Linked DNA regions of Homo sapiens: region 2 is linked to region 1. A link means that fine-mapping ties the variant in region 1 to the expression of a gene that starts in the linked region. Tissue or cell type: whole blood. Region 1 holds a variant in brackets; the other region holds the start of a gene. All regions are shown on one strand. Distances are between the middles of the regions.

Region 1 (10,535 bases):
GCAATCATCACTCACTGCAGCCTTGAACGCCTAGGCTGAAGTGATCCTCCCCTCCTTCCTTGGCCTCCCCAGTAATTGGTGTTACAGATTAGTGCCACCATGCTGGGTCAATTTTTTTTTTTTTTTTTTTTTTGAGACGGAGTCTCACTCTGTCACCCAGGCTGGAGTGCAGTGGTGTGATCTCGGCTCACTGCAATCTCCACCTCCCGGGTTCAAGCGATTCTCTGCCTCAGCCTCTCAAGTAGCTGGGGTTACAAGTGCCCACCACTACACCCAGCTAATTTTTGTATTTTCAGTAGAGGCGGGGTTTCACCATCTTGGCCAGGCTGGTCTTGAACTGACCTTGTGATCCACCCGACTCGGCCTCCCAAAGTGCTAGGATTACAGGCGTGACCCACCGTGCCTGGCCTGTTTTGTTTTTGTTTTTGTTTTTGTTTTGAGATGGAGTCTCCCTGCGTCGCCCAGGCTGAAGGGGTGGGTTGCCCCTCCACACCTGTGGGTGTTCCTCGTTAGGTGGAATGAGAGACTTGGAAAAGAAAGAGACACAGACAAAGTATAGAGAAAGAAATCGGGTGACCAGGGGACCAGCGCTCAGCATACGGAGGATCCACCCGGCCTCTGAGTTCCCTTAGTATTTATTCATCATTATTGGGTGTGATGTGTGAGAGGGGGATGTGGCAGGATCATAGGATAATAGTGGAGAGAAGGTCAGCAGGTAAACACGTGAACAAAAGTCTCTGCATCATAAACAATGTAAAGAATTAAGTGCTGTGCTTTAGATACATATACACGTAAACATCTCAATGCCTTAAGGAGCAGTATTGCTGCCCGCATGTCCCACCTTCAGGCCTAAGGCGGTTTTCCCCTATCTCAGTAGATGGAATATACAATCGGGTTTTACACCGAGACATTCCATTGCCCAGGGAAGGGCAGGAGACAGATGCCTTCCTCTTGTCTCAACTGCAACAGGGCATTCCTTCCTCTTTTACTAATCCTCCTCATCACAGACCCTTTACCGGTGTCGGGCTGGGGGACGGTCAGGTCTTTCCTTTCCCACGAGGCCACATCTCAGGCTATCACATGGGGAGAAACCTTGGACAATGCCTGGCTTTCCTAGGCAGGGAACCCTGTGGCCTTCTGTGGTGTTTTGTGTCCCTGGGTACTTGAGATTAGGGAGTGGTGACGACTCTTAAGGAGCATGCTGCCTTCCAGCTTCTGTTTAACAAAGCACATCCTGCACTGCCCTTAATCCATTTAACTCTGAGTTGACATAGCACATGTCTCAGGGAGCACAGGGTTGGGGGTAAGATTACAGATTAAAATGGAGTCTCTTATGTCTACTTTCTACACAGACACATTAACAATCTGATTTCTCTTTCTTATCCCCACACCAGGCTGGAGTGCAGTGGTGTGATCTCGGCTCACTGCAAGCTCTGCCTCCCAGGGGTTCACGCCATTCTCCTGCCTCAGCCTGCCTAGTGGCTAGGACTACAAGTGCCCACCACTACACCTGGCTAAGTTTTTGTATTTTTAGTAGAGACGGGGTTTCACCGTGTTAGCCAGGATGGTCTTGATCTCCTGATCTCATGATCTGCCCGCGTTGGCCTCCCAAAGTGCTGGGATTACAGGCGTGAGCCACCATGCCCGGCCTCCATGCTGGGTTAATTTTTAAATGTTTCGTAGAGATGGGGTCTTGCTTTGTTGCCCAGGCCGTTCTCAAACTCCTGGGCTCAAGCGATCCTCCTGCCTTGGCCTCCCGAGTAGCTGGGACTACAAGTGAGAGTCACCATGCTCAGCAAGAGCTCATTTAGTCCAACCCAGGGGAGGGTAGAAGTTAGCGCCTCAGCCAGGACTCTGCATCCTACAAAACAGATGAAGTCCGGGGTCCCTCCAAGGGTCCTGTGAGAAACTGAGACATTACTGTTGATATAATTATGAATTCTTATTTTATTTATTTATTTTGAGACAGTCTCACTCTTATTGCACAGGCTGGAGTGCAGTGGCGCGATTTCGGCTCACTGCAACCTCCACCTCCTAGGATCAAGTGATTCTCCTGCCTCAGCCTCCCAAGTAGCTGGGATTACAGGCGCATGCCACCATGCCAGGCTAATTTTGTATTTTTAGTAGAGATGGGGTTTCACCATGTTGGTCAGGCCGGTCTTGAACTCCTGACCTCATGTGATCCTCTGGCCTCGGCCTCCCAAAGTGCTGGAATTACAGGTGTGAGCCACCATGCCCAGCCATGTATTCTTCTCAGAGACAGAAGTGTATAAACCTTGGGCTCCTCTCAAAAAGCAGTTTGGTCCCTGGTTTCAGGTGTCTTCTCTTAATTAAATGGGGACTCTAATAGCATCTACTTCAGAAAGCTGTTACGAGGGTTAGTCCTCATAATTAATATTTGTAAACTCTTGGAGCCTGGCACAGAGTCAGTGTCCTGCCTACCTCCTAATAACTCCACCAGTTAGATGGTGATGACCCCTCTTGCAGAAGAGGAAATCGAGGCTCACAGAAGCCAAGTGACTGGCCTGGGCCACACAGGCAGCAGTAAGCAGAAGCAGGATTTCAAACCAGTTTTCCTGGACTCCTGTTGGGGTCTGGGCTCTACAGCCAACTCACGGTGTGGGCAGTCCCTCAGCCTTCTTGAGCCTTGGTTTCTTCACATATAAAATAGGGATGCTAGACTTGCAGTGTGCTGAGATCTGGGAGGTGATGAGGTCAGGCAGGGCCTGCTCTGTACTTAAAACTCTGTGAGGTCTGGGCGCGGTGGCTCACGCCTGTAATCCCAGCACTTTGGGAGGCCGGGGAGGGCGGATCACCAGGTCAGGAGATCGAGACCATCGTGGCTAACATGTTGAAACCCTGTCTGTACTAAAAATACAAAAAATTAGCCAGGTGTGGTGGTGGGCGCCTGTAGTCCCAGCTATTCGGGAGGCTGAGGCAGGAGAGTGGTGTGAACCCGGGAGGCGGAGCTTGCAGCTCACTGAGATCGCGCCACTGCACTCCAGCCTGGGTGACAGAGTGAGACTCTGTCTCAAAAAAAAAAAAAAGAACTCTGTGAATAGGCCAGGCGCAGTGGTGTGTGCCTGTAATCCCAGTGACTCGGGAAGCTGAGGTGTGAGGATTGCTTGAGTTCTAGACTTGTTTGAGTAACACAGCGAGACCCCGTCTCTATTAGAAATTTTTTAGGCTGGGCATGGTAGCTCACGCCTGTAATCCCAGCACTTTGGGAGGCCGAGGTGAGAGGATCACTAGGGGTCAGGAGATCGACACCAGCCTGGCCAACAGGGCGAAACCCTGCCTCTACTGAAATACAAAAGTTAGGGGCGCTGTGGCTCTCGCCTGTAATCTCAGCACTTTGGGAGGCCGAGGCGGGTGGATCGCTTGAGCCCAGAAGTTCAAGACCAGCCTGAGCAGCATGGGGAAACCCCATCTCTACAAAAAATACAAAAATTAGCCGGGTGTGGTGGTGTGCACCCGTAGGCCCAGCTACTTGAAGGGCTGAGGCAGAAGGATCTCTTGAACCTGGGAGGTCGAGGAAGCTTCACTGAGCTGAGATTGCGCCACTGCACTCCAGCCTGGGTGACAAAGTGAGACCCTGTCTCATAAATAATAAACAAGAAAGAAAATACAAAAATTAGCCGGGAGTGATGGTGCACACCTGTAATCCCAGTTACTTGGGAGGCTGAGGCAAGAGAATCACTCAAGCCTGGGAGGCGGACGTTGCAGTGAACTGAGATTGTGCCACTGCACACCAGCCTGGGTGACAGAGCAAGAGTCTGTCTCAAAAAGAAGGAACTCAGTGGAGTGGTCCTTGTTGTCACCTTCTGATTCACTGGAGTCCAGCACCAGAGTGTGGCAAGATACCTTGTTCCCACACAGCCCCTTGCCATGCCCCCAGAGATGTGTGCATTTCCCAGGGAGGCCACTTCTGCCTTTTCCATTTCCTTGAGGCTCCTGGGAGGTCCTGTGCCTCCACCCCTGGGGCGCCTCCTCCATCACCCCACCCTCCTGCTTCCTTTCTTGCTTAGGCTGTGAAGTGTGTGAGCTCCACAGGCTCAGGTGGGTGGGGTGAGAGGGGAGGGTGCTCGTCCTGGACTTGCCGGCACAGGGTCTCCTGGGGGCTCCCTCTTGGCCAGCTCTGGGCCAGAGATGCGTTTTGCAGTTGCCATTTGCGCATGGATTCTCAGCCCCACCAGCCTGAGTCTTCCTGAGGGCGGTGCCCCATCTTCCTGGCTCTGCGCCCACACAGTAGCGCCTGCCATGCAGTTCTTGCCCAGTCTGAGGCAGGAATAGCTGGAGGCCATTGTCACCTGATCGCTTGGCCCTTTTGCCAGCATCCTGTTTTGAGGGGCAGCAGGAATGGGGGTGGGGGCCTTGTGTACGCTGGAGACCAAAAGTGGGAAGGGAGGAGCCCAGCTCTCCACAGTGGGTTCTGGGCCTGGGGGCCACAGCAGGGGGTTCATACAGGGCTCAGGGGAGAGAGGAGGCTTGCTAGCTCCCACCTGGCGTTGGCTGATCCTCTGAGGGGCTGCGTTGGAGGGGTTGGCATTCTGGAACACCCTGCTGTCTGTCCTGCAGGTCCAGAAAGTCCCTGTGGGTGTGTTTGTCCCGGGGCAGGTGTGGGCTCCCTCAGATCTTTCCACACTGTTCTTTGGAAACCCTCACTGAAGTCTTTCCCTCCTCCAGCTCTGCTGTAGCTGCCACTGAGAAGAAGGCGGTGACTCCAGCTCCTCCCATAAAGAGGTGGGAGCTGTCCTCGGACCAGCCTTACCTGTGACACTGCACCCTCACGGCCACCCGACTACTTTGCCTCCTTGGATTTCCTCCAGGGAGAATGTGACCTAATTTATGACAAATACGTAGAGCTCAGGTATCACTTCTAGTTTTACTTTAAAAAATAAAAAAATAGAGACAGAGTCTCACCATGTTTCCCAGGCTGATCTTGAACTCCTGGCCTCAAGCGATCCTCCTGCCTTGACCTCCCAAAGTGCTGGGATTACAGGCATGAGCCACCACACCTGGCCTGATTTTATTTTTATTTTTTAGACCTTCCCACTGAGGCCTCTGCTTGACCTTGGTCACCCTGTAGCTCAACGGGGAAGGCAAAGGACAGTGAGGGCTGCTTACAGGGAAGGCAGACCTAGGGCAGATCAGGAAAGGCCTCCCTGAGCCAGAAACCATTATGCTGGGGCTGTGGGATGAGAATGAGTTAGCTCCAGAAGGAAGGCAGCTGGTTCCTGGGGAGGAGATAGAAATCTGGCTGCAGGAGCCAGAGTTTTCGCGCTTGTCACCCAGGCTGGAACGCAACGGCACGATCTCAGGTCACTGCAACCTCTGCCTCCTGGGCTCAAGCAATTCTGCCTCAGCCTCCCGAGTAGCTGGGACTACGGGTGTGCACCACCATACCCGCTAATTTTTTTTTTTTTTTGTAGAGATGGCCAGGCTGGTCTCAAATTCCTGACCTCAGGTGATCCGCCCGCCTTGGCCTCCCAAAGTGTTGGGATTACAGGTGTGAGCCACCACGCCTGGCCCCTGATTTTAAGCAATACCCAGCTTACTTGGATTTTGGGGTGAAGTCAGTGCTGAGTCTCCCAACTCTGTTGGCACTCCAGGGGTGGGACAGACACTGTCCCTGGGTGCAGAGGCCCTGGAGACAGCACTGCCCTTTCCCCCAAAGGCCAGGCTCTGACCTTGAGAGTGGTGGGAGTGGGTGATCCTTCTGGGAGG[T/C]TGGACTCCCAGGACCGCTGGCTGTTGGGGAGCATTGATTGTGAAGACCAGTCAGGTGGGGTAAGGGGTGTATGTGCGGACACTCAGTAGGCCAGCCACAGACTTCTCACTTCTTTTTTTTTTTTGAGACAGAGTTTCGCTCTTGTTGCCCAGGCTAGAGTACAATGGCGCGATCACGGCTCACTATAACCTCTGCCTCCTGGGTTCAAGTGATTCTCTTGCCTCAGCCTCCCGAGTAGCTGGGATTACAGGCGCCTGCCACAAGCCCAGCTAATTTTTGTATTTTTAGTAGAGACGGGGTTTCGCCATGTTGGCCAGGCTGGTCTCAAACTCCTGACCTCAAGTGATCCGCCCACCTCTGCCTCCCGAAGTGTTGGGATTACAGGCGTGAGCCACCGCGCCTGGCCTAACTTCCATCTCTTGAGGGCTCCCACAGCCACTTCTCACATGAACCTTCCTCAGCACCTTCCCACTGAGGCTCCTGCTTGACCATGGTCACCCTGCAGCTCAACGGGGAAGGCAGAGGACAGTAAGGGCTGCTCACAGGGAAGGCAAACCTAGGGCAGATCAGGAAAGGCCTCCCTGAGCCAGATCCCATTATGCTGGGGCTGTGGGATAAGAATGAATTCGCCCCAGAAGGAAGGCAGCTGGTTCCTGGGGAGGAGACAGAAATCTGCAAAGGGAGGGTGTCCAAGTCTGGCTGCAGGAGCCACCCAGTGACCCTACGCAGGGGAGTGTCATGGCTTCCCCAGGGCACAGCCCCAGACCCTTCAGCAGCTAAAAAAGATCAGCTGTGGACCAAGAGGGTGCTGAGACCGCCCTGCCCTCTGGAAGGGGAAAGGCCACGGCTACAGGCAGCAGGTACCAGTGTCCCAGAGTGGGTCCTACAAAGGCTAACACCTTCCTGGAGAAGGTGGGATTCTGCTTGGGGCAAAAGGATGAATCAGATTCAGAAAGGTCAGGAGGGAAGGAAAGACTAGGCAGGGTGTGCAGAGGCCACAAGGAGGGCAAGACCCTAGGCAAGGCATGCCGCTGACGGCATCTGAACCAAGTTTTATGACCACAACTTTTTTTTTTTTTTGAGACAGAGTCTCACTCTGTCACCCAGGCTGGAGTTCAATGATGTGGTCTCGGCGCACTGCAACCTCCGCCTCCCGGGTTCAAGCGATTCTCCCATCTCAGCCTCCCTAGTAGCTGGGACTACAGGAGCATGTTACCACACCCGGCTAATTTTTGTATTTTTGGTAGAGACGGGAGTTTTACTATGTTGGCCAGGCTGGTTTAGAACTCCTGACCTCGTGATCCGCCTGCCTCGGCCTCCCAAAGTGCTGGGGTTAACAGGCGTGAGCCAGCGCGCCGGCCAACTTTTCTAACAAATGGGGTCTCACTGTCACCCACGCTGGAGTGCAGCCCCAAGTGATTCTCCCACCTCAGCCTCCTGAGTAGCTGGGACTACAAATTAGAGCCACCATGCCCAGCTAATTTTCTTTTTTCTTGAGGCGGGCGGGGACTTGCTGTGTTGCCCAGGCTGATCTCGAACTCCTGGGCTCAAGCGATCTGCCCGCCTCTGCTTCCCAAAATGCTGGGATCACACACGTGACCCACCGCGCCCGGCCTTTATTATTAAATTTAATTAATTAATTGATTTCCTTTCCTTTTTCCCCCCCAAGCAACCCGACTCCGAGAATGGACGTTTCATTTATTCATTTACTCACCAAATGTTTACTAAGAGCCTACTATGAGTCAAGCACTATGTGTCAGATCCTGAGAATAAAGCAGTGAGCAACAGAAGATCCCTGCCCTCCAGTAGCTAGCATTCTATGGGGACTCGGACAACAAACCAGAATAAGTAAATAAAATAAATTACCTGTCGGCGCCACAAAAGCAGTGGGATGAGGGAGGAAATGCGGAGTGCCTGAGGGGCGTGGCTGCCATATTAAAGAAGATCACGAGGCAGTAACATTTGCAGCAGTCCTCATTTGGAACGGGAAATAATGCAAATGAACACCAACAAATTCCTTCCCATCCCCAGAAGTTTCTAACTTCAAGCGGGCTCCATACCTTTCAACTGATCTGGTCACTGGGGAAAGTGGGGACGGGCCTCTAATTCTCTTTTCCCTGCTATTCTGACATTTACGGTACGCGTAGCCGCGGGCGCCGCAGAACTCAGGGGCTTGGGCCCCGCCCCAACCCCGCGCGTGCGCGTGCGCAGGGATAAGAGAGCGGTCTGGACAGCGCGTGGCCGGCGCCGCTGTGGGGACAGCATGAGCGGCGGTTGGATGGCGCAGGTTGGAGCGTGGCGAACAGGGGCTCTGGGCCTGGCGCTGCTGCTGCTGCTCGGCCTCGGACTAGGCCTGGAGGCCGCCGCGAGCCCGCTTTCCACCCCGACCTCTGCCCAGGCCGCAGGTGAGTGACGCCCCGCAGCGCGGGCTCCCACCCCTCGCGAGGCTTCGCCCCGCCGCCGCGCACCGACAACGCCTAGTCACTGGCTGCACCGCACGTCAGTTCATGACACTCCCCCAGCACGTGGACTTGGACTTCATCGCTTGTGGGAAGGCGCGCACTGGTGCTAGGAAGACCCCATGCTGGGGGAGGGGAGGAGGGTGTCTCCACCTGCCTTTAACGGTTTTGCTCCGGCCCTGCACACCGTCTCCACACCTGCTGTGCCCTGTCGTCCCCCATTGTCACCTCCAAGCCGCCCTTCATACCAGCGTGGTCAGGAAAGCTCTTAGCAGGCTCAGATTGTCCGACCGCTAATCACGCAGGACGGGTCACCTGGTGCCTCTCGCACCTTTGCCTTCCAAACCCTCGCGCCCAGGCCTTGTGACCGTTCCGCAACCGTCCCTGCCCTCCCAGTCTCTCCTCCTTTGTCCTCCATCCTTAGAGAACGCGAGGTCTCTCCCCCCCATGCTACTGCAGGCTCTCGCAGAGACTGGGGTCACAAGTTGAATATACCCCCGTGGACGTGTTCGCCCTGGCCTAAGAGGTATTGGTGGCCAGTGGGGACGGGCTCCCTCTCTGATACCCCTAGAGGCAGCTGGAGGGTTGGAGTGGCCTCCCTGTGCACTCAGGCACTCCCAACTTGCAGCCCTGGGCTCAGGCTCACACACTTTCCCAGCTCCTTTGTGCATTCCGCACTTCTAGGTCCCTGGACTCATCCCAAAGTCCCTGACATTCACGTTAAATGTTCCTGGGTTTTTTTTTGTTTGTTTTTTTTTAAGGAGGCAGCGTTCACGTTAACCAAGTACAAAAGTTTTTGTTTTTTTTTTTTTGAGTCTCCCTCTGTCGCCCTGGCTGGAGTGCAGTGCAATGTTGGCTCACTGCACCCTCCGCCTCCCGGGTTTAAGCAATTCTCATGCCTCAGCCTCCCGAGTAGCTTGGGACTACAGGCACCGTCACCATGCCCGGCTAATTTTTGTATTTTTAGTAGAGATGGGGTTTCACCATGTTGGCCAGACTGGTCTCGAACTCCTGACCTCAAGTGTTCTGTCCGCCTCAGCCTCCCAAAGTGCTGGGATTACAGGACAAAACTCTATACACAGTCTCTTTTTTCTCAGGATGTTGAGGTAGGGATTCCCAGCATACCCCGTTTACAGGTGAGGAAACTGAGGCCAGGAGAGAAAGTCACTGGTCACTGTAACTCCTGTCAGGCTTACACCCTATGAGGCGGGGACTGCTGTGCTCTACTGTCCACTTTGCAGAGGGATACACACTCCCGCAGTCCAGCGAAGGGAGGTCAGAGGTGTCAGGGCTGTGGAAGTCTGCGCCTGGGTGGAGAGCCACACCTGGAGGCTGCCAGATCTCCCGGGGGCGGGGAAGGAAGCAGGCACCGGTTTGTCCACAGCTCTTCTGGGATCCATAGAGCTCAGGGACCCTGTGGCAAGTAGGTGCAATTAGGCCTGAAGGCCGAGGAGGGGCTGGCAGTGGGGAGTGGGGGGTTGGAGGCTCATGGCTGGTGGGTAAAGGTGGAAGAGGTTAAAGGCCTTGGCAGAGTGAAGCTAAGCCAGGGTGGCGGATTTGCCACCTCCCCTGGCCGCACCCAGGAGGAAGCCGTAAAGGCCACTCCCTTCCTCTGTCCCTTGGCCCAGGTTGCGGGCCCCTCCGTGCCCCTCCAGGTCGGCAAGCAGCTGAGCTTCCCTGCTCAGAATCTAGGACAGCCGGGATCTTCTCTGGACCCAGCTTGGACCCTTATGTGACCTGTGTCCACTTATAATCAGGCACTGCCCTGGGTTTAGGCGGCCAGGTCACAGCCCTGACCTCCACAGAATGTCCAGTCTGTGGGTGGACAGGCATGACCAGGGCTTTAAGGACAGTTGTTAGACATGGGAGGCAGTGCTTCCTAGGTCTCCAAGAGGGACATGAGAACCCTCCCAGGAAATCAGCTGAGATCTGAAAATTGAGGGGAAAACACAGGGTGTAGGGAGGAGAGAGGGAAAGGCAAGTCTCTGGTGTCCTAATGGACCTTGGGGCCTGGGGCCTGGGGCTCTGGTGAGGAGCTGACACATTTAGGATGGGGAGAGTGATAGGTCTGGGAGGAATTCAGGAGGCGGGGCAACAGGACTTGGTGACTGAGCAGATTTTCTACCCAGTGCCTCAGTTTCCCACCCACTGCCTCAGTTTCCCTTTTGCTACGCAGAGGAGATAGACCCTCCCTGCTGACCTGAGCCCGGGAGCCTGACCCAGGGCATGTGGAAAAATGGCCCGTCCCTCAGTCTCTTTAACCACTGAGTTTGGAGGTCTCCCTGGCAGATCATCTCGCTATGAGGAGCCTGGTGAAGACTCTGGGATCAGCGAGACCTGAGTTCGAA
Region 2 (10,535 bases), 33 kb before region 1:
GGCTTAGGCCGGGCGCGGTGGCTCACACCTGTAATCCCAGCACTTTGGGAGTCCCAGGTGGGCAGATCACCTGAGATCGGGAGTTCCAGACCAGCCTGGCCAACATGGAGAAACTCCATCTCTACTAAAAATACAAAAATTAGCCGGACGTGGTGGCGCATGCCTGTAATCCCAGCTACTCAGGAGGCTGAGGCAGGAGAATCGCTTGAATCTAAGAGGCAGAGGTTGCAGTGAGCCAAGATTGCACCACTGGACTCCAGCCTGGGCAACAAGAGTGAAACTGCATCTCAAAAAAATAAAATTAAAAATAAATAAATAAATAAATAAACAGGCTTAGGCCGGGCGCGGTGGCTCGTGCCAGTAATCCCAACACTATGGGAGGCTGAGGCTGGTCGATCACAAGGTCAGGAGATCGAGACCATCCTGACCAACATGGTGAAACCCCATCTCTACTAAAATACAAAAAATTAGCTGGGCATGGTGGCTTGTGCCTGTAGTCCCAGCTGCTCTGGAGGCTGAGGCAGGGGAATCGGTTGAACCTGGGAGATGGAGGTTGCAGTGAGCCAAGATCACGCCACTGCACTCTAACCTGGTAACAGAGCAAGACTCCGTCTCAAAAAAAAAAAAAAAAAAACGGGCAGGGGGAGCTTAAAAGACATATCATTTTCTTTTTGAATGGGCAAGACTAAACTCCAGTGTCTACAGATTCACATTTGGATAATAAAACTATACATGTGCAGTGGCGCTCACCTGTCTCCCAGCTACTCAGGAGGCTAAGGATCATTTGAGCCCAGGAGTTCCAGGCTGCAGTGAGCATTGATTGCACCACTGCACTCCAGCCTGAACAATACAGTGAGACTCTGTCTCGAAATAAATAAATAAGCAAACAAACAGAAACCTACACAGGGCCGGGCGTGTTGGCTCATGCCTGTAATCCCAGCACTTTGGGAGGCCGAGGCAGGTGGATCACCTGAAGCCAGGAGCTCAAGACCAGCATGGTCAACATGGTGAAACCCCATCTCTACTAAAAATACAAAAAATCTGGTCATGGTAGCGGGCACCTGTAATCTCAACTACTCAGGAGGCTGAGGCAGGAGAATCATTTGAACCCAGGAGACTGCAGTGAGCTGAGATCATGCCACTGCACTCCAGCCTGGGCAACAGAGCGAGATTCTGTCTCAAAAATAAATAAATAAATAAACAAACAAATAAATAAAAGTCACAAAACAGTGGTTACTTAGGGAGTGAGGGGCAGCTGTGACTAGGACATAGTCCACGGAGGCGCTTCTGGGGTAGCTGGCAAGTGCAGTTGGTTGGCCCGGGTGGAGGCGACGATGACCTTCATCTCAGCACTGGGTTTCTGAAACTTAGCACTCTTGACATTCAGGCCACATAATTCTTGGTCCTTGGGGATGGCCTGTGCATTGCAGGGTGGTTAGCTACATTCCTGGCCTCCGCCCTCTAGAGGCCAAAAACACCCGCCTCCTCATTACCCAAAAGTGCTCCTGGATATTGTCAAACATTCTCCCATGGGGCAAAATCACTCCTGGTTGAGAACTACCCCCTGGAGGAACTCCTTAAACTATACATTTGTGGGGTTTTTTGTTGTTGTTGTTGGTTTTGTTTTGTTTTTTGTTTTTGTTTTTTACTTTTAATTGCATTTATTTTAATGCTGAATTTACTCCCATGCCATAAGTTTTTGTTTCTTCAGTTTCTTCTGGGATATCTTTTTCTTTCTTTTTTTTTTTTCCGAGATGGAGTTTCACTCTTGTTGCTCAGGCTGGAGTGCGATGGTGCGATCTCGGCTCACCGCAACCTCTGCCACCCGGGTTCAAATGATTCTCCTGCCTCAGCCTCCTCCTGAGTAGCTGGGATTACATGCATGCGCCACCACGCTCGGCTAATTTTATATTTTAAGTAGAAATGGGGTTTCTCCATGTTGGTCAGGCTGGTCTCGACCTCCCGACCTCAGGTGATCCACCCGCCTCGGCCTCCCAAAATGCTGGGATTACAGGCGTGAGCCACTGCGCCCGGCCTTGGGATATCTTTTTCTTTTGGGCAACCTCCTCCTCTGGCTTAGGAAAAATCTGTTCCTTTTCAGTAAGAATCATCTCAGTGTGGCAGGGAGAACTCATTCATGGGTTAATCCGACCGGAGTTCCGTAGGTCTGGCGACGCATCTTAGGTACTTTGTTCACTTGGATATGCTCAATGACCAGAGAATCTACATATAACCCTTAAGTTCAGCATTACTCTCTGCATTTTTTTTTTTTTTGAGACGGAGTCTCGCTCTACTGCCCAGGATGGAGTGCAGTGGCACAATCTCGGCTTTGCAACCTCCGCCTCCCGGGTTCAAGCAATTCTCCTGCCTCAGCCTCCCTGGTAGCTGGGACTACAGGCACGTGCCACCACACCCAGCTAATTTTTGTATTTTTAGTAGAGATGGGGTTTCACCGTGTTGGCCAGGCTGGTCTCGAACTCCTGACCTCAGGTGATCCGCCCACCTCAGCCTCCCAAAGTGCTGGGATTACACGTGTGAGCCACCATGCCCGGCCACTCTCTGCATTTTTAAGCATGTACAGCAAAAATTCAGCACTTTTTCTGGGCCACTGACTTTGTGTCCAGCCCCACTGCTTGGCCTGGGCACACCTGCCAACTCCACCATTGTAATGTTGGAATGGTACACACAGTTTCTGTAAAGTGACATCTTTCAGATACTTCGTGGATTTTCATATATACATACCCTTGATGGCCTGGGCAGTTTCATGAGTGTTCTCCAAGTGAACATGAAGATTTGAACCTCTTGATTTGCATGATTTTGTGGGGTTCTCTGGGTCAAGTAAATAGCGAACCATTTTCCCAGATTACCTCAGGCCACTTAGGGAAAGAGTATACATTTGTTTTATGTGGTTTCTTGAATCTGCTGTGTGTGTGCATCTATGGACGCTTTATTTTACAACTATATATATATATATATATATATATATATATATATATATATTTTTTTTTTTTTTTTTTTTTTTTTGAGACAGAGTTTCACTCTCGTTGCCCAGGCTGGAATGCAATGGCTCACTCTCGGCTCACTGCAACCTCTGCCTCCCAGGTTCAAGTGATTCTCCTGCCTCAGCCTCCCAAGTAGCTGTGATTACAGGCATGCACCACTACACTGGGATAATTTTGTGTTTTTAGTAGAGACGGAGTTTCTCCATGTTGGTCAGGCTGGTCTCGAACTCCCGATATCAGGTGATCTGCCTGCCCTGGCCTCCCAAAGTGCTGGGATTACAGGCGTGAGCCACCGCACCCGGCCACAATAAAAATATTTTAGGGCTGGGTGCGGTGGCTCACGCCTGTAATCCCAGCACTTTGGGAGGCTGAGGCAGGCAGATCACGAGGTCAGGAGATCAAGACCATCCTGGCTAACACGGTGAAACCCCGTCTCTACTAAAAATACAAAAACAGCCAGGTGTGGTGGTGGGTGCCTATAGTCCCAGCTATTCGGGAGGCTGAGACAGGAGAATGGCATGAACCCGGGAGGCGGATCTTGCAGTGAGTGGAGATCACACCACTGTACTCCAGCCTGGGTGACAGAGCAAGACTCCGTCTCAAAAAAAAAAAAAAATTATATATATATATATATATATATATATATATATATACACACACACACACACACATATATTTTAAACATTCCAATGGAGGCCAAGTGCAGCGGCTCATGCCTGTTATGCCACTATTTAGGGAGGCTGAGGCAGGAGAATCACTTGAACCCAGGAATTTGCGACCAGCCTGGGCAACATAGAGAGACCCTGTCCTTACAAAAATAAGAAACCTGCTGGACGTGGTAGCACATGCCTGTAGTCCCAGCTACTCGGGAGGTTGAGGTGGGAGGATTGCTTGAGTCTGGGAGTTCAAGGCTGCAGTGAGCCATAGGTCTTGCCACAGAACTCCAGCATCGGCAACAGAGTAAACTTTGTCTCAAAGGAACAAAGAAGAAAATTCCAATGGAGTTTCTGTGGGGAAACGCGACAGAATTCCACAGTTTTAACTGAAAGAATCAACCAATTAAAATAGCCCAGGAATTTTGTTTTTTTTTAAAAAGTATCAGATGTTAAAATACATTTTAAAATATTACTATATTCTGGCCAGGTGCTGTGGCTTATGCCTGTGATCCCAGCACTTTGTGAGGCCAAGGCAGGTGGATTGCTTGAGCCAAGGAGTTGAAGACCAGCCTGGGCAAAGTAGTAAAAGCCCGTCTCTACTAAAAATAAAAAAAATTAGCTAGGCGTAGCACACACTTGTAATCCCAGCTACTTGGGAGGCTGAGGCAGGAGGATCTCTTTAACCTGGGAGGCGGAGTTTGTAGTGAGCTGAGATATTGTGCCACAGCACTCTACCCTGGGCAACAGAATGAGACCCTGACTCAAAAAAGAAAAAGAAAACATTATTTCAGCAAACATTTATTAAGCATCTACTGTGTACTAGGGTCGCTGGATAAAGCAGTTATCAAAACCAGTTTCCTGTTCCCATGGTGCTGACACTTAATTTAGAGACAGAGTCTCACTCTGTTGCCCAGGCTGGTCTTGAGCTGCTGGGCTCAAAAGATCCTCCCACCTCAGCCTCAGGAGGTGCTAGGATTACAGGCATGAGCCACCCCACCTGGCCTTGGTGCCGACACTTTAGTGAGATGGCAAGCAGGTAAACCAATAAATAACCAGCCAGGCATGGTGGCTCACGCCTGTAATCCCAGCACTTTGGGAGGCTGAGGTGGGCGGATCACCTGAGGTCAGGAGTTCGAGACCAGCCTGGGCAACATGGTGAAACCCTGTCTCTACTAAAAATACAAAAATTAGCTGGGCGTGGTGGTGTGCGCCTGTAATCCCAGCTACTTAGAAGGCTGAGGCAGGAGAATCGCTTGAACCCCAGGAGGCAGAGGTTGCAGTGAGCCAAGATCGCACCACTGCACTCCAGCCTGGGACAGAGCGAGACTCTGTCTAAAAAAAAATTAAATTAAATTAAAAAATAAACCAAATAAATAACTGAGTGTTTCGTTTTTGTCTTTTTGTTTTGTTGTTTTCTTTTGTTTTGAGAACTAGGTCTTGCTATGTTGCCCAGGCTGGTCTCAACTCCTGGCTCAAGCTATCCTCCCATCTATGCCTCCCTAAATACTGGATTTACAGGCGTGAGTCACTGCGCCTGCCAATAACAGAGTCTGCTTTTTTTTTTTTTTCCAGATAGTAAAAGTAGCTATTAGGTTAATACAATAGAGTGATGAGAAAAATACTAACTGGGGAGGGGCTATGTCAGGAATTTAGGGGGCAGCAACACAAAAGCTGAACCTCAGAAAGTAGGGAAGGCCGGGCGCGGTGGCTCACGCCTGTAATCCCAACACTTTGGGAGGCTGAGGCGGGCGGATCACTTGAGGTCAGGAGTTCCAGACCAGCCCGGCCAACATGGTGAAACCCCATCTCTACTAAAAATACAAATATTAGCTGGACGTGGTGGTGTGTGTCTGTAATCCCAGCTACTCGGGAGGCTGAGGCAGGAGAATTGCTTGAACCCAGGAGGCGGAGGTTGCAGTGAGTGTCACTGCACTCCAGCCTGGGACTCCGTCTCAAAAAACAAAAACAAAACAAAACAAAAAACAGTAGGGGAGCCTCAAAAAGTACCTACGTGTACAGGTGCAAGGGAAAGCATTTCAGGTAGGTGGAACAGCATGTGCAGAGGCCCTGCGGTGGGGAAGATCCGGGACCTGATACTTCACCCAGGCACTGCGAAATAAGTGCCAGTTATAGAAATCCCACCGGGTTACTCTTCTACTCATAGTTCTCCCATGGCTCCCTCGTGCCTGTGGATCAAATCCAAGCTCCTTGGCCCGGCGCTGGGCAGAGACTTGACCTCTGCTGGTGCAGAAATGCCGCCAGCCAGCGCTCGGCGACCGTCACTCCAGGGCCCGCCCTCAGTCACCACCCCTACATTCCAGGCCCCGCCTGCCTGTCCCACCCCACCGTCCCACTGGGCGGCTTGGAGAGCCTCGGGTGCTGGTTGGCTGGCGTGGCCGTCAGTTAGGGCGAAGGCCTTGATAATCAGTCCCCGGACTTCGAGGGGGCGGGCTCGGGTGCGGGCGCGGCTGGGGCTGCGGCTTCAGGTAAATTGCCAGCTTGCGGGGACACGGATGGGGGACCCCTGGGTGGGTGGATTCGGGGACGCACCGGGACCCGGCGCTGCGCTGCGTTTCCAGCCCCACTGAGGGCTCTGCCCGCTGCGACGGGGCGGGCGTCGTGTCCTCTGGCCGGGACCCCTCCCACATTGGAAGTCCCAGGTGGGTAGCGAGCAGAGTGGGGGGCTCTGGAGGCGTGGGCTTGCCCCCCTCTCGCCCTTCGGGAGCTCACTGCGGGGCTCGTTCGCTCCCTAATGCCACAACCGGCCCTGGGACCCTTTCCCGGGACGGCCTGGGGACCCCAGCCAGCCCCTCGCGCTGGGCTGGGTGTGGGAGCGTGTCACGGAAATGGTGTTTTGGGGAGGGACGCACGGCCCCCGGACCCGCAGACAATGGGTAGCGGATGGAACCGCCCGGCGGCGCTTCCTGTAGGAAACTGCTCTGTCTCTGTGCGGCTAGGACGACCTGGGGGTGGACGGGTGATGATGACTTTAACACCCACCTTCCTGCCGCCACCGGTCCCCCACCCACCCACCTCAAGAGTCTGAGAGTCCCAGCAGACATCAGGGGCTGCCAGTACTCAGGGCCTCCTGGAAGGCGCCCTCTCCCCAGGACTGGGATCCTCACTGGCCTGCCGTGGCCCCCACCACTCCGGTTTGGTGATCACAGCTCTGCGTCCCAAAATAGTCCCTGGGGCGGGAGAGGGGGCGTGTGGCGTCGGCTCTGACGGCCTAATGAGGGGGTCTCAGGCACAGAATCCGGATCTAGCTGTGACAGTCAGGGCAGGGAGCGGAGGAGAGGGAAGGCAGCTAAACGCCCCACTTAGTGAGGCCCCAGCCCCTGAAGCCGCAGAGGTGGTGGGCACCTCCGCCCCCAATCAGAGTCTGACACAGGTGTAGGCTGGGAGGGACAAGCCCCCTGAGGCTCCTTGGTGGTTCATGCCTGTTATCCCAGCACTTTGGGAGGTCAAGTAGGGCTGATCTCTTGAGGTCAGGAGTTTGAGACCAGACTGACCAACATGATGAAACCCGTCTCTACTAAAAATTCAAAAATTAGCCAGCTGTGGTGGCAAGTGCCTGTAATCCCAGCTACTCAGGATGCTGAGGCAGGAGAGTCGCTTGAACCCTGGGCTCAGAGGTTGCAGTGAGCCGAGATCCTGCCACTGCACTCCAGCCTGGGTGACAGAGACTCCGTCTCAAAAATAAAAATAAAAGAAAGCATTCAAGTGTAGTGGCCAAAGCAAGGACTCTGGAAGACCTGCCTGGGTTTAAAACCTGCCTCTGCCTGTTTATGACAGGACCCAGGCAGGACACTAAACTGTTCTGTGTCTCAGTTTCTCCATCTGTACAATAGGGGAAGGGACAATGATCATAGGAAATCCAACCTCAGTGGATTTAGCTAGGATTTTAAAAAATAAGTCAAGGTCAGGTGCAGTAGCTCATGCTTGTAATCCCAGCACTCTGGGAGGCTGAACTGGGAAGATTGCTTGAGCCCAGGAGTTGGAGGCCAGCCTGGGCAATATAGCAAGACACCTGTATCTACAAAAAATAAAATTAGGCCGGGCACGGCTCACGCCTGGTTTGAGACCAGCCTGGCCAACATGGTGAAACTCCGTCTCTACTAAAAATACAAAAATTAGCCAGGCATGGTGGTGCACACCTGTAATCCCAGCTGCTTGGGAGGCTGAGGCAGGAGAATCACTTGAACCCGGGAGGCGGAGATTGCAGTGAGCTGAGATTGTGCCACTGCACTCCAGCCTGGGCGACAGAGCATGACTCCATCTAAAACAAAAAACCAAAAAATTTAAAATATTAGCCTGAATTAGCCAGGTGTAGAGGTCCATTCCTGTAGTCTCAGCTATTTGTGAGGCTGAGGCGGATCACTTGAGCTCAGGGGTTCAAGGCCACAGTGAGCTATGATCGAGCCACTGACTCCAGCCTGGGTGACAGAGTGAGCGAGACATTGCCTCTAAAAAAAAAAAAAAAAAAAGTAAATATCCATAAATTCCTTAGACTAGAGGCTGGCCCATAGTAAATATCAAAAGCGTTGTTATTATTTGACATTCTGGAGGGATCCATTCCTTTCTTAGCCCAGCCTCTGGATCCAACTGCTTCAGCTAGTTTAGGTCTTAGGAATGGCCCACAGCTGTCTTCTGAGATCCCAGGGCCTGGGATTTGGGTGTGACCAGGTCACCGGAGGAGGACGCTGACCCCATTGCGTCATACGGCCAGCTGTGTGAGAAGTAGACCCAGACCCCCCAACCCTTGATCTGGACTTTTTCCACAACCCAGTTCTTCCCTGGCAATTTCCTGAAAACAAGTGATGAACGGCATTGGCTGTCCTCTGCGATGACCCGCTGGCCTGTTGATCCACCCCTTGCAGCTGGTGTGAAGGGACGGGAAACAGCTGCTTGGGGACTGGAAGAGGCCCCCTGCCTGGCCTTGGAGTGGGAAGGGAGAGGTCAGGGACCTCGGCCAGACAGAAGTGGGAAATGGAGTTACGGTTTCCCCAGCGGTGGAGTAGGGTAATGAGTCAGGAGGGCTGGTGGGTGCTCAGTGCTTCATAGCATCAGGCACACAGGTGGTCCCAGGGATTCGAGAAGCCAGAAGGGGTGGCTGGGAGTGTTGCCATGTGGTTAGCACAGACGGGCCGTGGCCCAGGGAGAGGATGAAGTGGGTTTGGCAGATGCCTGTCAGTGGAGGACTGGACAGGTAAAGGGCAGTCAGAAGCTGTGGCAGGGACCTGCTGACAAGGGTTCCGCAGATGGGCAGAGCCCAATCTGAGGGTGCTTCCCACAGGCAACTGATTTAATTGTTCTGTGCCTCAGTTTCTCCATCTGTAAAATATGAATAATAATACTACTTTGCAGTATGCAAAGTGTTGTATGGGGGCTGTGTGTGTGTGTGTGTGTGTGTGTGTGTATATATATATATATATGGTTTTTTTTTTTTGAGACGGAGTCTGGCTCTGTCCCCCAGGCTGGAGTGCAGTGGCATGATCTCAGCTCACTGCAACCTCTGCCTCCCAGGTTCAAGCGATTCTCCTGCCTCAGCCTCCTGAGTAGCTGGGACTACAGGCATGCACCATTGTGTCCAGCTATGGCGATGACATTTAATCAGGAAGGGCACACCGTAGGCACTTTCCCCTCCCTGAAGGTTTTCCATGTGGGCTTTCCAAAGCCCATCTTTCCCACTCCATGTTCCTGTGCTTTTCTTTTCTTTTCTTTTCTTTTTTTTTTTTTTTTTTTTTGAGACAAGGTCTTGCTCTGTCAACCAGGCTGGAATGCAGTGGCATGATCATAACTCACTGCAGCCTGCATCTCCTGGACTCAAGAGATACTCCTGCCTCAGCTTCTTGAGTAGCTGGGACTACAGGTGCATGCCAACACATCCAGCTAATTTTTGTGTTTTTTGTAGAGATGGGGTTTCGCTATTTTATTTATTTATTTAGAGACAGAGCTTCGCTCTTGTTGCCCAGGCTGGAGAGCAATGGCTTGTGAGCCACTGTGCTTGGTGGTTTCACTATTTAAAAACAAACAAACAAAAGAGATAGTGGCCAGGCACCTTGGCTCATGCCTGTAATCCCAGCACTTTGGGATGCCGAGGTGGGTGGATCACCTGAGGTCAGGAGTTCGAGACCAGCCTGGCCAACATGATGAAACCCTATCTCTACTAAAAATACAAAAAATTAGCCAGGTATAGTAGCAGTGGCTGTAATCCCAGCTACTCAGGAGGCTGAGGCAGGAGAATCACTTGAACCCAGGAGGCAGAGGTTGCAGTGAGCCAAGATTGTGCCACTGCACTCTAGCCTGGGCAACAAGAGGGAAATTCTGTCTCAAAAAAAAAAAAAAACAAAAAGAGATAGGGTCTCGCTATGTTGCGCAGGTGGGTCTTGACTCCTAGGCTCAAGCGATCCTTCTGCTTTGGCTTCCCAGAGTGCTGAGATTTCACCCTGTGCTTTTTGAACCAAAGTTCTGGATTCAATATTTGTCCTTGTTAAATATCACATTATTATATGTGGCCCAATCTTCCTCACTTTCTTACAGCCTCCATCATGTCATCCAAACAGTCACTTTCCCAGGCAGCCCCATGAATAGTCACAGCTCTGACAACCCAGGTGTTTTGTGTTTGCATTACAAACTCTTACAAGCCAAGGATCAAGCCTGTGACACTCCGCTAGCGACATTCCAGGGAGACAAGTATCCGTTGATTTGTTGATTTGGATCTTTGGTGCATCCAGCCCGCAATTCCCCATCATTCCTGCAAGAGTTTCACAACTGACCTTGGTAAAAATTTGGATGCACAATTACATCCTTTTTTTTTTTTTTTTTTTTTTTTTTGAGACGGAATCTCGCTCTGTTGCCAGGCTGAAGTGCAGTG

Evidence for each region. PIP is the estimated chance that this variant, and not a neighbour inherited with it, causes the effect.
Region 2: it holds the start of KANK3, and the variant in region 1 is fine-mapped to the expression of KANK3 in whole blood (TOPMed, PIP above 0.99).

Annotation. Positions count from the first base shown.
Region 1 is chr19:8,305,747-8,316,281 of GRCh38, reverse strand. CD320 (CD320 molecule) reads left to right here and starts at 7,924. Exons shown (of 5, transcript NM_016579.4): 1 at 7,924-8,133. The coding sequence starts at 7,992. It overlaps NDUFA7 (NADH:ubiquinone oxidoreductase subunit A7), which reads left to right. Exons shown (of 4, transcript NM_005001.5): 4 at 4,687-4,998. The coding sequence ends at 4,777. RefSeq lists enhancers at 3,739-4,341, 7,096-7,625, 7,681-8,420, 8,305-8,434, 8,421-9,161 and 1 more and silencers at 7,822-8,160, 8,135-8,224. The variant T/C (reference allele first, on the strand shown) is at 5,728.
Region 2 is chr19:8,338,834-8,349,368 of GRCh38, reverse strand. KANK3 (KN motif and ankyrin repeat domains 3) reads left to right here and starts at 6,107. Exons shown (of 11, transcript NM_198471.3): 1 at 6,107-6,144. It also overlaps the pseudogene LOC100129682. RefSeq lists enhancers at 5,873-6,664, 8,599-9,099.